4 separate regions of the Homo sapiens genome follow, and regions 2, 3 and 4 are each linked to region 1. Evidence: fine-mapped expression QTL. A gene starts in region 1. Each other region holds a variant in brackets. All regions are shown on one strand. Distances are from middle to middle. Region 1 holds the start of NAPRT (nicotinate phosphoribosyltransferase). Region 2 overlaps CYP11B1 (cytochrome P450 family 11 subfamily B member 1). Region 3 has its middle 10 kb from the start of MAFA-AS1. Region 4 has its middle 6.3 kb from the start of MAFA-AS1.

The links. PIP is the estimated chance that this variant, and not a neighbour inherited with it, causes the effect.
Region 2: its variant is fine-mapped to the expression of NAPRT in aorta (GTEx, PIP 0.98).
Region 3: its variant is fine-mapped to the expression of NAPRT in whole blood (INTERVAL, PIP above 0.99).
Region 4: its variant is fine-mapped to the expression of NAPRT in fibroblasts (GTEx, PIP 0.98).

What each region holds. Positions count from the first base shown.
Region 1 is chr8:143,576,775-143,579,510 of GRCh38, forward strand. NAPRT (nicotinate phosphoribosyltransferase) reads right to left here and starts at 1,556. Exons shown (of 13, transcript NM_145201.6): 1 at 1,319-1,556; 2 at 1,042-1,169; 3 at 883-965; 4 at 495-625; 5 at 288-403; 6 at 1-68. The coding sequence starts at 1,544. RefSeq lists enhancers at 964-1,871, 1,872-2,736.
Region 2 is chr8:142,874,325-142,876,824 of GRCh38, forward strand. It overlaps CYP11B1 (cytochrome P450 family 11 subfamily B member 1), which reads right to left. Exons shown (of 9, transcript NM_000497.4): 4 at 2,358-2,500; 5 at 1,917-2,071; 6 at 1,388-1,554; 7 at 910-988; 8 at 633-830; 9 at 1-162. The coding sequence ends at 49. Among named protein-coding and RNA genes, the nearest start is that of CYP11B1, 4.2 kb to the right of the region's middle. The variant C/T (reference allele first, on the strand shown) is at 1,339.
Region 3 is chr8:143,396,614-143,399,349 of GRCh38, forward strand. No RefSeq gene overlaps it. Among named protein-coding and RNA genes, the nearest start is that of MAFA-AS1, 10 kb to the right of the region's middle. The variant G/A (reference allele first, on the strand shown) is at 1,415.
Region 4 is chr8:143,400,479-143,403,214 of GRCh38, forward strand. No RefSeq gene overlaps it. Among named protein-coding and RNA genes, the nearest start is that of MAFA-AS1, 6.3 kb to the right of the region's middle. RefSeq lists enhancers at 25-672, 673-1,320, 1,321-1,968, 1,969-2,615 and a silencer at 819-995. The variant G/A (reference allele first, on the strand shown) is at 1,365.

The DNA of each region.
Region 1 (2,736 bases):
TCCAGCCACACCTGGGCTTTGGCCGCCAGGTCCACCCCAGGGCCCTCACCAGCTGCTGGCGCCAACATCTGTGGAACAGAGTCGGTGAAGAATGGGGGCCAGGAATGCAGGATGAGGCCTGGGAGCAGCCAGGGACACCCTAGTTTGAGAGCAAAGGTAATGCAGCCCGTGCCAGCTTCCTGGGACAGCACTGGGGTGACCTGCCTGGGTGGCACACCTCTCGCCAGGGCAAGGGCTGGCTTGGGGCCTGTCGCCTGGAGACAGCAGGGTTTAGAGGAGGGACTGACCGGGTCAGGGGGCACCTCGCTGCCTGAAAAGGAAGTGACGAAGGAGTGGGCCAGGGTCCCGGCCACCGGCACACCTCGCAGCTGGCCCGCTAGCACGTTGCTGCTGCTGTCGAAGCCTGGGGAGGAAGGCGGTGGGATTGGGGGACCTCGGGCCAAGATGGGGCTCCTCCTTCCCGGCCCTTGCCTTGCCCCGCACCAGACACTCACCGCCCAGGTAGCTGTAGGTGGAGGCTGTCAGGCCCCCATCGGGGCCCTGAGCCCGCCTCAGGCCCATCTCTAGCAGCCGCTTCTCTGGCCCTGCGATCAAGCGAAGCCGCGCTGCGTTGGTGGCCACCAGGCTGTGGGGAGCCAAGAGTCAGGGGGTCCCAGGGTGAGGATCACTAGGCCACCCAAGACGGCGGTTACCTGGGGCCTGGAACTTCCAACCTGGGAGCTCCACCCTCACCCAGCCCCTCCTTACACCCTGAAGAGTGGGGGCGGGAGGCCAGTCCTGGGACCCCTGGGCAGCCAGCCCCGCCGCCACAGTCCAGCACGGAGCCCCGGCGCTGGGGGCCCATCCCATGCCCACGCTCCCTGCCAGTGGCCCGCAGCCCACCTGGCGTAGCTGACCAGGCAGAGCAGCGGTGTCTCCAGCAGCTGCACCACCAGGAGCGGCCCGGACACCTGCAGGAGCGGCACCTGCGGGGAGAGAAGTCAGCTCCGCGCTCGGCCCAGCACCCCGTGGCCGCCGCGCCGCCCGCTTACCCCTACTCACTCCGGGGAAGGCGAGGGAGCCCTCGGGCAGGGCTCGCACCGTCACCTCGGAGCAGTCGAGGGCCCGAAGGTGCTCGAAGAACGCAGGATCCGTGTCTGGGGGCAGCACCGAGGCCAGGAACTGCACGTCTGGAAACGAGGTAACTGCGCTGAGACCAGCGCGGGGACAGACCGGTCGTGGGACATGGGGGGTTCCACGGGGGGACAAGGACTTCCACCGGCCATAGGTGGGGGTTTCTGCCGGGCGTGGGGGGCTCGTCGCGCGGACGGGGGACTACCGGCGTCCCGCAGGCGGAAGGCGCGCAGGAAGCGCACACAGTCGCGCAAGCCGGCGGCCAAGGCGAAGGCGCCGCCGAACGGGCAGCGGCGGAAGAAGAGCTCGAACTCGGCGGCGTCCCGCGCCCGGCCCGCGCGCCAATAGCCCAACGCCATGGTGGCCTGGTAGAGGTCAGTGAGCAGCGGCCGCGCCGCCGCGCGCGCCTCGGGGTCCTGCTCCGCCGCCATCCTGCTCCCGACGTCCGGACTCCGCCCCGCCCCGACCCCGTGACGCGCCCCGGCCTATGGCGCACTCCCTGTGGGGCTTATCGTGCCGTTTGGGAGCGGCACGGGACTCGATGGAGGACGGGTGGGGCTAATAGTATCGGCGCGCCGAGAGGGGCTGAAACAGCTGGACCCGGGATGGGGTGGGGGATGTCACCCAACTCCTCTCGGACCCCCCAACCCCACTCCAGGCCCAACGGCCTCTTTGGAGCGCAGCCCGGTCTTGGTCACCAGAGGTGCCCCCAGTCGCTCGTGTCTCTGCCCTTTGGCCGGGCAATGAGGTGCAGCTCAGGACTTGCCAGGCGGCGGAAAGGGTGGAGGACAGACCAGCCAGACTCCACCCCCACCGACCCAGAAGACAACCGCTGGCCAGCAGCCAGCTCCTGCCCTGGGCCTGGGGAGGGAGGCCAGAGGCTGCCTTAGTTAGAGCTTGAGCAGCCAGGCTAGGACGAGGCAGCCCAGATGGACGCAAATGTCGCTTGGAAAGAGCTTGGCACCCAGGAAAGGGCGGCGTGGGGCAGGGGGGCGCATGCCCACTGTCGGCTGGCACCAAAAGACCTTTTGTGGCTATGAAGGCCCAGTGTCCCTCAGTGGTGGCTTTTATGGGGTCCTGCAGTCCAAGCCCCACAGGAAACTTTCTAAAGGTTTGAGGGCAAAGTCAGGGGCCACTACCCAGGGAGAATCCATTCCCCTGTGGCTTGGGGCCCCGAGGACAGAGTCTGACCAGAAGTAATCAAGTAATTACACCCCATCCTCTTTCACCCCAATGCAAACACGGGTGGTCCAGGGGAGGGAGTGTGGCCACCCATGCTGACCACATACGGCTGTCAGGATGCTGAGGCACAGCTCCACAGAGCCCAGGCAGCCACGTTCTGGCCACCCCAGAACATCATGGGAGGGGCACAGTCCCTGGAGCAAGGGGCAGGGATTCCAGGAATGAATGAGGTGAGGGGAGGGCCGGGACAGCACATGACAAAGGGCATGGCAGCAGGGCCGGGTGCTACTGGGACTTCTTTCCTGGACAATTCCAGGCTTGCACGCTTGCTCCCATGGGGACAATGCCAACAGGAGGCAGAGTGGTGGGGTGGTGGCCTCTCCAGATAGTGACCTAACAGTTTCTGTTTCTGGCTTTTTAAACCCCCTGAACTGGACTTGC
Region 2 (2,500 bases), 700 kb before region 1:
GAAAGGGAGGCTGGTGGCCAGGCTGGGACCCTGGGTGCAGAGACGTGATTAGTTGATGGCTCTGAAGGTGAGGAGGGGGAACATGCTGGGCCTCAATATGAAGCTGTAGACCATCTTTATGTCCTCTTGGGTTAGTGTCTCCACCTGGAGGTGTTTCAGCACCTAGGACAGAAGCCGGGTTTCCATCTGGCTTGGTCCGCAGCCCATGCACGTGGTGCAGCCTTCTCAGACCCTCAAAGTTGCAGAGATTATGCTGAAGGGGGAACAGCAGCCTGGCCTCCAACCTGTTTCATTCCTGACCAGCCCCACCTTACAGCCCAGGCCCAGAATTCATCCAGCCCAGGTATTGCCCAAGCCCCACTATCCTGTACAGGCTCCACCCGACTTCCCCAGTTCCCACCTGACCCGGTTTAGCAGCAACCTCACCCAGATGGTACGCTCCTCACCATACCAACTCCTGCCCAGGACCTACACAGCCTCAACCTGGCCCAGGTTCTCCCAGTACCGGCTCTGCCCAGTCCAGGAAACATGCAGGCCACTCCCACTCTGCCGAGGCCAGTCCCACATTGCTCAAGCCCCGCCCATGCTGCCCAGACCCCGCCCAGGCCCCTCCCCAGCCCGGGCCTGCTCACATGGTGCAGCAGCAGCAGCATCTCTGCCTCTGCCAGGCGCCGCCCAAGGCACTGGCGCATGCCAAAGCCAAAGGGCACGTGGTAGAAGTTCCTGCCGGAGCCCCTGATGTCTAGCCAGCGCTGGGGGTTATAGCGCTCAGGCCTCGGGAACAAGGCGGGGTTGCGACCCAGAGAGTAGAGGAACACGCGCACCAATGTCTGCGGACGGTGCAGAGCGGGGATCAGGGAATGACTGGGGAGGGAGGTTCTCAGCTCGAGGGGTGTGGGGCTCACTCACCCCAGCTGGGATGTGGTAGTTCTGAAGCACCAAGTCTGAGCTCGCCACTCGCTCCAGAAACAGACCCACAGGGTAGAGCCTGGAGGTGGGGGCATCCATAGAAAGGGTCCTCAGCTGGATGGGGCTTCCTGTGCTCTCTGCACCCTTCCTACCGAAGAACCCGCAGAGGTCCCAGATCCATGGGAAGCCCAGGTCGTAGGAAGTGCTTCCTTGCACCTGCTGAGCCCGGCCAAACCTCCCCTAACTTAAGCAGCCCCGAGCGCAGAAGGACATGCTCCACGTTAATCCCCAGGGCGTTGAAGAGGGATTCCAGAGAAAGAAGAGCTCCCTGTCCTTGAGGGGGAGGAAGAGCAGGTGCAGGGGAATGGGCTGCTGGGTGACGCTGTTTATCAGCCCCAGATTCTGTCTGCCACCACCCAGTGGGGGCTG[C/T]TCTCCAGCAGGGGGCCAGGGCCACAGGGAGGCCTCAGCCAGCACCCACCGCAAGGTCTCCTTGAGGGCCGCACGCAGCAAGGGCAGCTCGGTGGTTGCCTTCTGGGGATGTTCACTGATGCTGGCTGCGGCGGCCAGGCTCTCCTGGCGCAGGGCCTGCTGCACGTTGGGGTTCCGAGCCAGCTCAAAGAGCGTCATCAGCAAGGGAAACACCGTCTGCAGGAGACACAGCTGCAGGGTCAGACCTTGCACAGGAGGACTCAGCCCCCGGGACACCCCTCCCAGGACAACCTCCCTGTGAGGGGTGCAGACATGCATACCCTGAGAACGACAGAGCCCAAGACTTCAAATCCTAATGCCCATCCAAACCCCTTTCCCTGAGTCCTCCACAGAAAGGAACCCCCCATTCCAACCATGGCAACCTGCAAACGTGTTTATCACATCACAATCCCAAGTAAGAAATGTGGGGCCCATAGCCTGGGGATGGGACACGTGGGCGCCGTGTGACATTGGCAGGCAGTGCCTGGGAGGCAGGCTTGGCATCACCCTCTCTGGGTGGGGCTGGTTGCCGGCCTGACCGTGTCCACGCTCCCTGCAGTGAGTTCCATAGAGTTGGCCTTGATGGCATCTGGCGACAGTTCCGCATTCAACAGGAGCTCCGCCACGATGCTGGTGTACTGTTGAGGGCGGCTGAAGGCCAGTTCCTGATAGATTTTCTGGATACAGTTGTCGCCTATCCGGGGAGCGGGAGGCAGCCCTCAGACTTTGGTGCTGGGAGACATCCTTCAGTGTCCTCCTCCTGCCCAGACTGCCCCGACACCCAAGTCTCCCTGCTCTCATCCCAAATTCTCCGGATCAGCCCAGCCCAGCCCCAGCCTCGCACCAATCTCCCTGGCAGGAAGGTGAGGAATCCCCGACCCCTCCCTGTGGCCTCCATTCCCCACTGGGTGGTGGAGAGGGAGAAATTGGGCCCCCATGGTGTCCCTTCCCCATAGCACTGCCCGGGTCCCTGGCCTCACCGTACTGGAAGATGCAGTCCCAGGCCTCAAAGTGCTCCTTCCACACCTTGGGGCTGGTCCAGCGAGACAGGCTCCTGGGCATGAACATGAGCTGGACGGTGGATTTGAACATGACCTCCAGGGCATGGAGGAAGTTCAGGCTG
Region 3 (2,736 bases), 180 kb before region 1:
GAGCCTCCCGGGGTCGATCGTGGCTGGGCCAAGCCAGACGCCCTCTGAATCTCTCCTGGACTGGCGGTGGCCCCTGTCTCTACAGGCAGCCCTCCCGCGGCCTCACTCTGCCCGCTGCCAGGTCAGCATCCCCAGCCTCTGTGTGACAGGGAAGCCCAAAGCCGCCTGCTGGGGCTCCAGGGAGGGAGTTAAGGCCCCTCAGTGACTGGACTGAGGCAGAATTGCTCCTTCTGTTGAGCCCCAAATCCCACTGCCAAGATAGGGTCCCAGGCCTGAGGACCTCCCGCCAACACCAGAGCCCCACGCATGGGGGTGCTCCCACTCCGGCCTGCCCTGTCCCGGACGCCAACCCAGCGAGGGTGCGGAGTGCAGGGCGGGCGCAGACAGCGAAGGCCTGCAGTGGCTGCCTGCCAGGCTGGGAAGCTCCAGTGGCCTGAGGGTCCCAGATTCCACTGCCATCGAGGGAACTCCCTCCCCGCACCCCCAGCATTGACTCCTCTGTTCCAGGAGCTGGACCCTGACTGTATGTGGCGCCTGCCTCCAGCCCTGCTCTTCCCAGAGCCCTCCTGGGTCTGGCCTGGGCCAGGCCTGCCCTCCAGGGACTCCCACAGGGTGCTGGGCGGCAGGGCCCCGCCCATGCCCTTCTGCTCAAACCTTGGGTGCTCTACCCTCCCACTGTCCCCTCCTGGACTGTCACTGTTCCTCCTAGGGGGCAGTGATGGAAGGGGCCCACCTACCCATATGTCCCCTGGTTCCCTCAGTCACCCCGACCCTGGCAGGAGGGTTAGGCTGGCCTCGTGAGCCCCAGGACAGGCTGTCCTGAAACGGTCACCTCCCAAGCCCAGTGTCCCACTCAGAGCTGGGCCTCCATAGAGGACCCCACAGGACGGCTTGATTACTTAAAATTGTGATTACGGTAAAATGTGTTACGATTTCAGCCATCTCTGAGGGTGCACCTGAGTGGTGTGAAGCGCGCCCACATCCTCGTGCCTCCAGAATCTTCCATCTTCCCAAACTGACTCTGTTCCCGTGAAACACTCGCCTCCCCAGCCCCCGTCCCCACCCTGTGAATCGGAGCCTCAGAGCCTTAGGTCACTGGGGTCACAGCATGTGTCCTGTGCCCACCACCTTCGCTCAGCATGGGGTCTCCCCAAGGGGCTCTGGCGAGGGGCGGGCATCCTTCTGGCTGGGCAGGTGGAGGGGCCCCTCACCCAGGAAGGGTGGCGGAAGCCAGAGAGGCCCTGAGGGTGAGGGTTTGAGGGCGGATGTGTGGGGGTGGGGCCGCAGTAACTACAGGCCAGCAGCAAATGGACAGCTCACAGCGGCCGGCAGAGAGCATTTTTAATGGTCCCTAAAGCCCTCAGCCAGCCAGCGCTGAGCTCAGCATCCCCTCGGTGAGCCTGGGAGGGGCGTG[G/A]GGCAGCCCGGGACCACCTCAGATATCTCCCACTGCCGCCTCTTCCCTGCCAGGACCCCCAGAACCCACCCAAGAACTCAGGGGCAGGGGACAGAGCCCTGCGGGTCCCCAGACCCCGGTGTTGATCGTTCCATGCTGGGCCGGAACTGCCCTGCCCTTGGGGACTCTGCAGGGATATTCGGAAGCTCCGCCAGCACCCCCGCCCTATTCGTCACAGGGCCCATTAGGTGCTGACAGTTGCTTCCCCATCTGCCTGGCTGGGGCGGGGCCAAGGCCCCAGGGGCCCATCCATCTTGGACCCTGGGGTCTTCCTCTTCCTCCTTGGTCTGGGCTGGAGGCCTCTGAGGGTGGCCTCCCCCAACCCAGACTCCGGGGTGGGGGCAGGCGTCTTCCGAGAAGGACAGCAGGGAGGAAGTGTGGGAGGAGGCGGCTCCCTGGCCAATAGGGCAGCGCAAGGCAGTCCCAGCACCATCACAGTCCAACCCTGGGGGCACCAGAACCCGGGGACTCCTGCTTGGGCTGGGGGAGCCTGGAGCTGATTTGTTAGCTCTCCCACCCCAACCAAGCTCATTCAGCTGGGGCTTTGGGCCTCAGCTGCCTATCACCTGGGCGGGAGGGTTCGTGGGAGGCCAGCTAGGCTCCAGGCAGCCCAGACAGGGTCCAGCCACCGGCCTTGTGGGACTGGGTGCCAGGTGTGGGGGAGGGAGCCAGCAGCTCCCCGGGGTTCCCCTTGGTTCAGCACCCAGGCCCAGCTGTGGGTACTGGGAGCCCAGGGCTTCTAGGAGCCTCCTCTGGGCCTGTGGGGAGGGTCTGGCAGTTTCTTCACTCTTCCCAGAGGGTGTGGGCAGGCCTTGGGTGCAAGAGATAGCCTGGCCCGGCACTGCAGCTGCCCTGGGGTCAGGACTGCCTGGCAGGCTGTGGTTTATTTATATGACCAGCTTATTTATTTATAGGGTTCTTGATGGGAGGTGCGGGCCCTGGCCTGCACCCCAGAGATATGCAAGCCCCACCGCAGAGGGGCAAGGGCGTACCCCTGGGCCATAGCCAATGCCCACTACTCCTCCGGGAGGCAGTCCTCAATTGCACACTCCCCTCCCGAACCCACCTCCTCCCTCGGTGGGGAAGCAGAGGCCACAGAGGTGAGCGTCACTGGAGGCGTGCCAGGACACAGCGCAGGACACAATGATGACATCAGTCTGATGTCACCACCTCTATTGAGCCCTGGCTCCAGGCTGCCCCCCTGTGATCCTGCTGGCTGTGGCTCCGTGAGGGTTGGGGGTGTCAGGGGCACTGGAGCTGGGCAGGGCTGAGGCAGTATGGAC
Region 4 (2,736 bases), 180 kb before region 1:
CCTGCATGCCGGCCTCACAGGCTGGCTGAGGGCGGGAGGGGTGGGAGTGTGCCAGGCCCCCTCCAGCCCTGGGGCATAGTCCATGGGGGCCTTGTTCTCCCTCTGTCTCACGACATCCTCCACACCACTCCACACCCCTCTCCAGGAAAGACCCTGAACCCCAACTCCCAGGAGTCCCTTGAACCCTCATAACCTCAACAGACACACCTGGGAATGCTCCTCAGAGGAGCAGCTCGGGCACCCCAAGCTGAGGCCCGTGCCCACCTGGGCTGCGCCCAGACTCCGGTCTTGAACCTCTGGGCTCTCCTGCTCTTGGACAGCTCAGTGCATTCATTCAGCAGTGGGCCCTGCTGAGCGTCCCCCAAGCGCAGGGCCCTGAGGAACAGCTGTGACCCAGTGGACTAAGACCCCTGCCCTCCAGGGCCTGGGTGTGCAGCTGGGTGGGGGCGGGTCCAGCCACAGCATCCATCGGCAAGGGGGGAGGGGCTTGCAGGCAAGGTGGGGACCTGCAAGGGCATGGTATGCGCGCTGGGTCTGTGGCCCCCTGTGCAGGGGTGAGTGGCTGCAGGGCCGAGAGGAGGCTGTGCAGGGGTGAGAGGAGGCTGTGTAGGGGTGAGAGGAGGCTGTGCAGGGGCGAGAGGAGGCTGTGCAGGGTGAGTGGAGGCTGTGCAGGGGTGAGAGGGCATGCCAGTCCTGTGGGAGGTGGGAAAAGGGGGTCCAGGGTGAGCAGCGGGCTCGAGATGGGGGTGTCTGCTGGAGCCTCTTCCCAGCTGCCCAGTGCGTAGACCTCAGGGACACCTTGCCAGCCTCCCCTCCCCGGCCTTCCCTCCACACCCCAGGCTGTGCTGCACCCTACGGCCACCAGACGGCGTGCAGAGCCCAGCAGGCATACAAGGCCTGGCGGGTGGAAAGGGGGCCTGGCCAATGGGCTCATTTGTTGGCCGGAGCAGGCAGTCAATGGCCTGGGACAGCAGAGGTGCTGATTAAGATGCCACACTTGAGTTAGAACCTCCTGCCAGCGGTGATGAGCAATTGATCAGCTTGTCAGGGGAGGCGGCCCAGAGATGGGGAGGGGAGTGGAGGGGAAGGGAGGGCAGAGGGGAGGGGAGGGGAGGGGAGGGCAGAGGGGAGGGGAGGGGAGGCAGGGTGGGAGAAACAGGGCGGTGTGGGGGAGAGCGATGAGAAGACACAGGTAGATGAAGAGAGACAGAGACAAAGGAGAGGCATATCCAGCGAGCTCTTGCCCACAGCCCAAGCGTCATCCCACCTGTGACCCAGGGCTGGGAGGAGGGTTGGAGACCCTCGGGACAGGTGGATCCCAGCCCCTCAGCACCCCCTTCCCGGCATCCCCCCCAGCGGGCGGG[G/A]CATCCTGGCTTGCAAGTCTTTCTGCTGTTTCCATTTGTATGTAGAATTTATAGACTTTTTTGTTGAGCATTTTAAAATTTACAGAAAAGTAAGCAGAAAGTGCAGAGCCGCGGGCCTTGCCCTCGACCTGTCCCCGCTCCCCGCTTAGCCCCACAGTGCTCCGTTTGGCATCACTGATCAGCCGCAGGGCTCGCCCGAAGTCTGCACTGACACCGGGGCTCACCCCAGGTGTGCCACGTGGGTTCTGGTGCACACTGCTGTTTCCACCGTCGTGGCACCACACGGAGGGGCGTCACCACCCTCAGCACCCCTGCCGCGCCCCCAGCTCTCCTTCTCCCGACCTTGGCAGCCGCAGACTCTTCCTTTCCCTGTGGTTTTGCCTTTCCCAGAGTGCCTTCTGGTGGGACTCACAGCATGTGGCCCTTTCAGAGGGCGTCTTTCCCTTAGAAATGTGCCTCGAAGGCTCCTGCTGGTCTTTCCGGGCTGGAGAGCTCCTTCCCTGTGGTGCTGAGTAACATCCCCCTGTCTGGAGGTTTGGGGCTGATCTCCCAACCCCGCTCCAGGCTTGGCTCTGAAGAACAGAGCTGCCTTGACATCCGCATGGGGGTTGGTCAGTTTCTGCTCATCTGGGTGAACACTGAGAGTCCGCTCCCAGACCCCGTGTGGTGAGAGTGTGCTGAGTGTCCTAAGCTGTGCCCAGCTGTCCTGCCGAGGCTGCCCCATCTGCACGGCCACTGCCATCGGTGCCTCTTGCCACTCCCGCCTTCTCTCTGTGCTTCTCCGTTGCCGGCCTCACAGCGTTCTCCTTTCAGCTTCAGATGTTCGCCCTTGCCTGCCTTCCACAGAACAGGAATCTCCTGCCCCTGACCCCAGCTGCCTCTTGCTTGTCATCACCAGCTGTGGTCACAGCCGCGGGTCTGGTTGGTCACCCTGGACAGCGTAGATACAGTGTAGATACTGCCCACAGTCATGGTGGCCTGAGGGCTGCACTGTCCTGAAGTCAGGCGTGCACTCTCTATCTCTGTCTCGCTCTGTCTCTTTCTCTCCCTCTCTCTCCATTCATGTCTCCACCCCCACCCCATCTCTCTCCTGCTCACTCACCCCTCTCTGTCCTGGCCTGCACATGGCCTGTCCCCACACTGAGTGTCAACAGCATGATTTCAGGACCTTTTGTTTTGGTTTGTTTTTGAGACAGGGTCTCGCTCTGTCGCCCAGGCTGGACTGCCGTGGTGCAATCGCAGCTCCCTGCAGCCTTGACCTCCTGGGACTCCAGCGATCCTCAAGCAGGTGGGAGGTTCTGGGGGTGCCCCCTCTCCACCCCTGGGGCAGAGATCACCTTTCAGTCTCGGTCGGCCCCCACCTCAGCTTCCG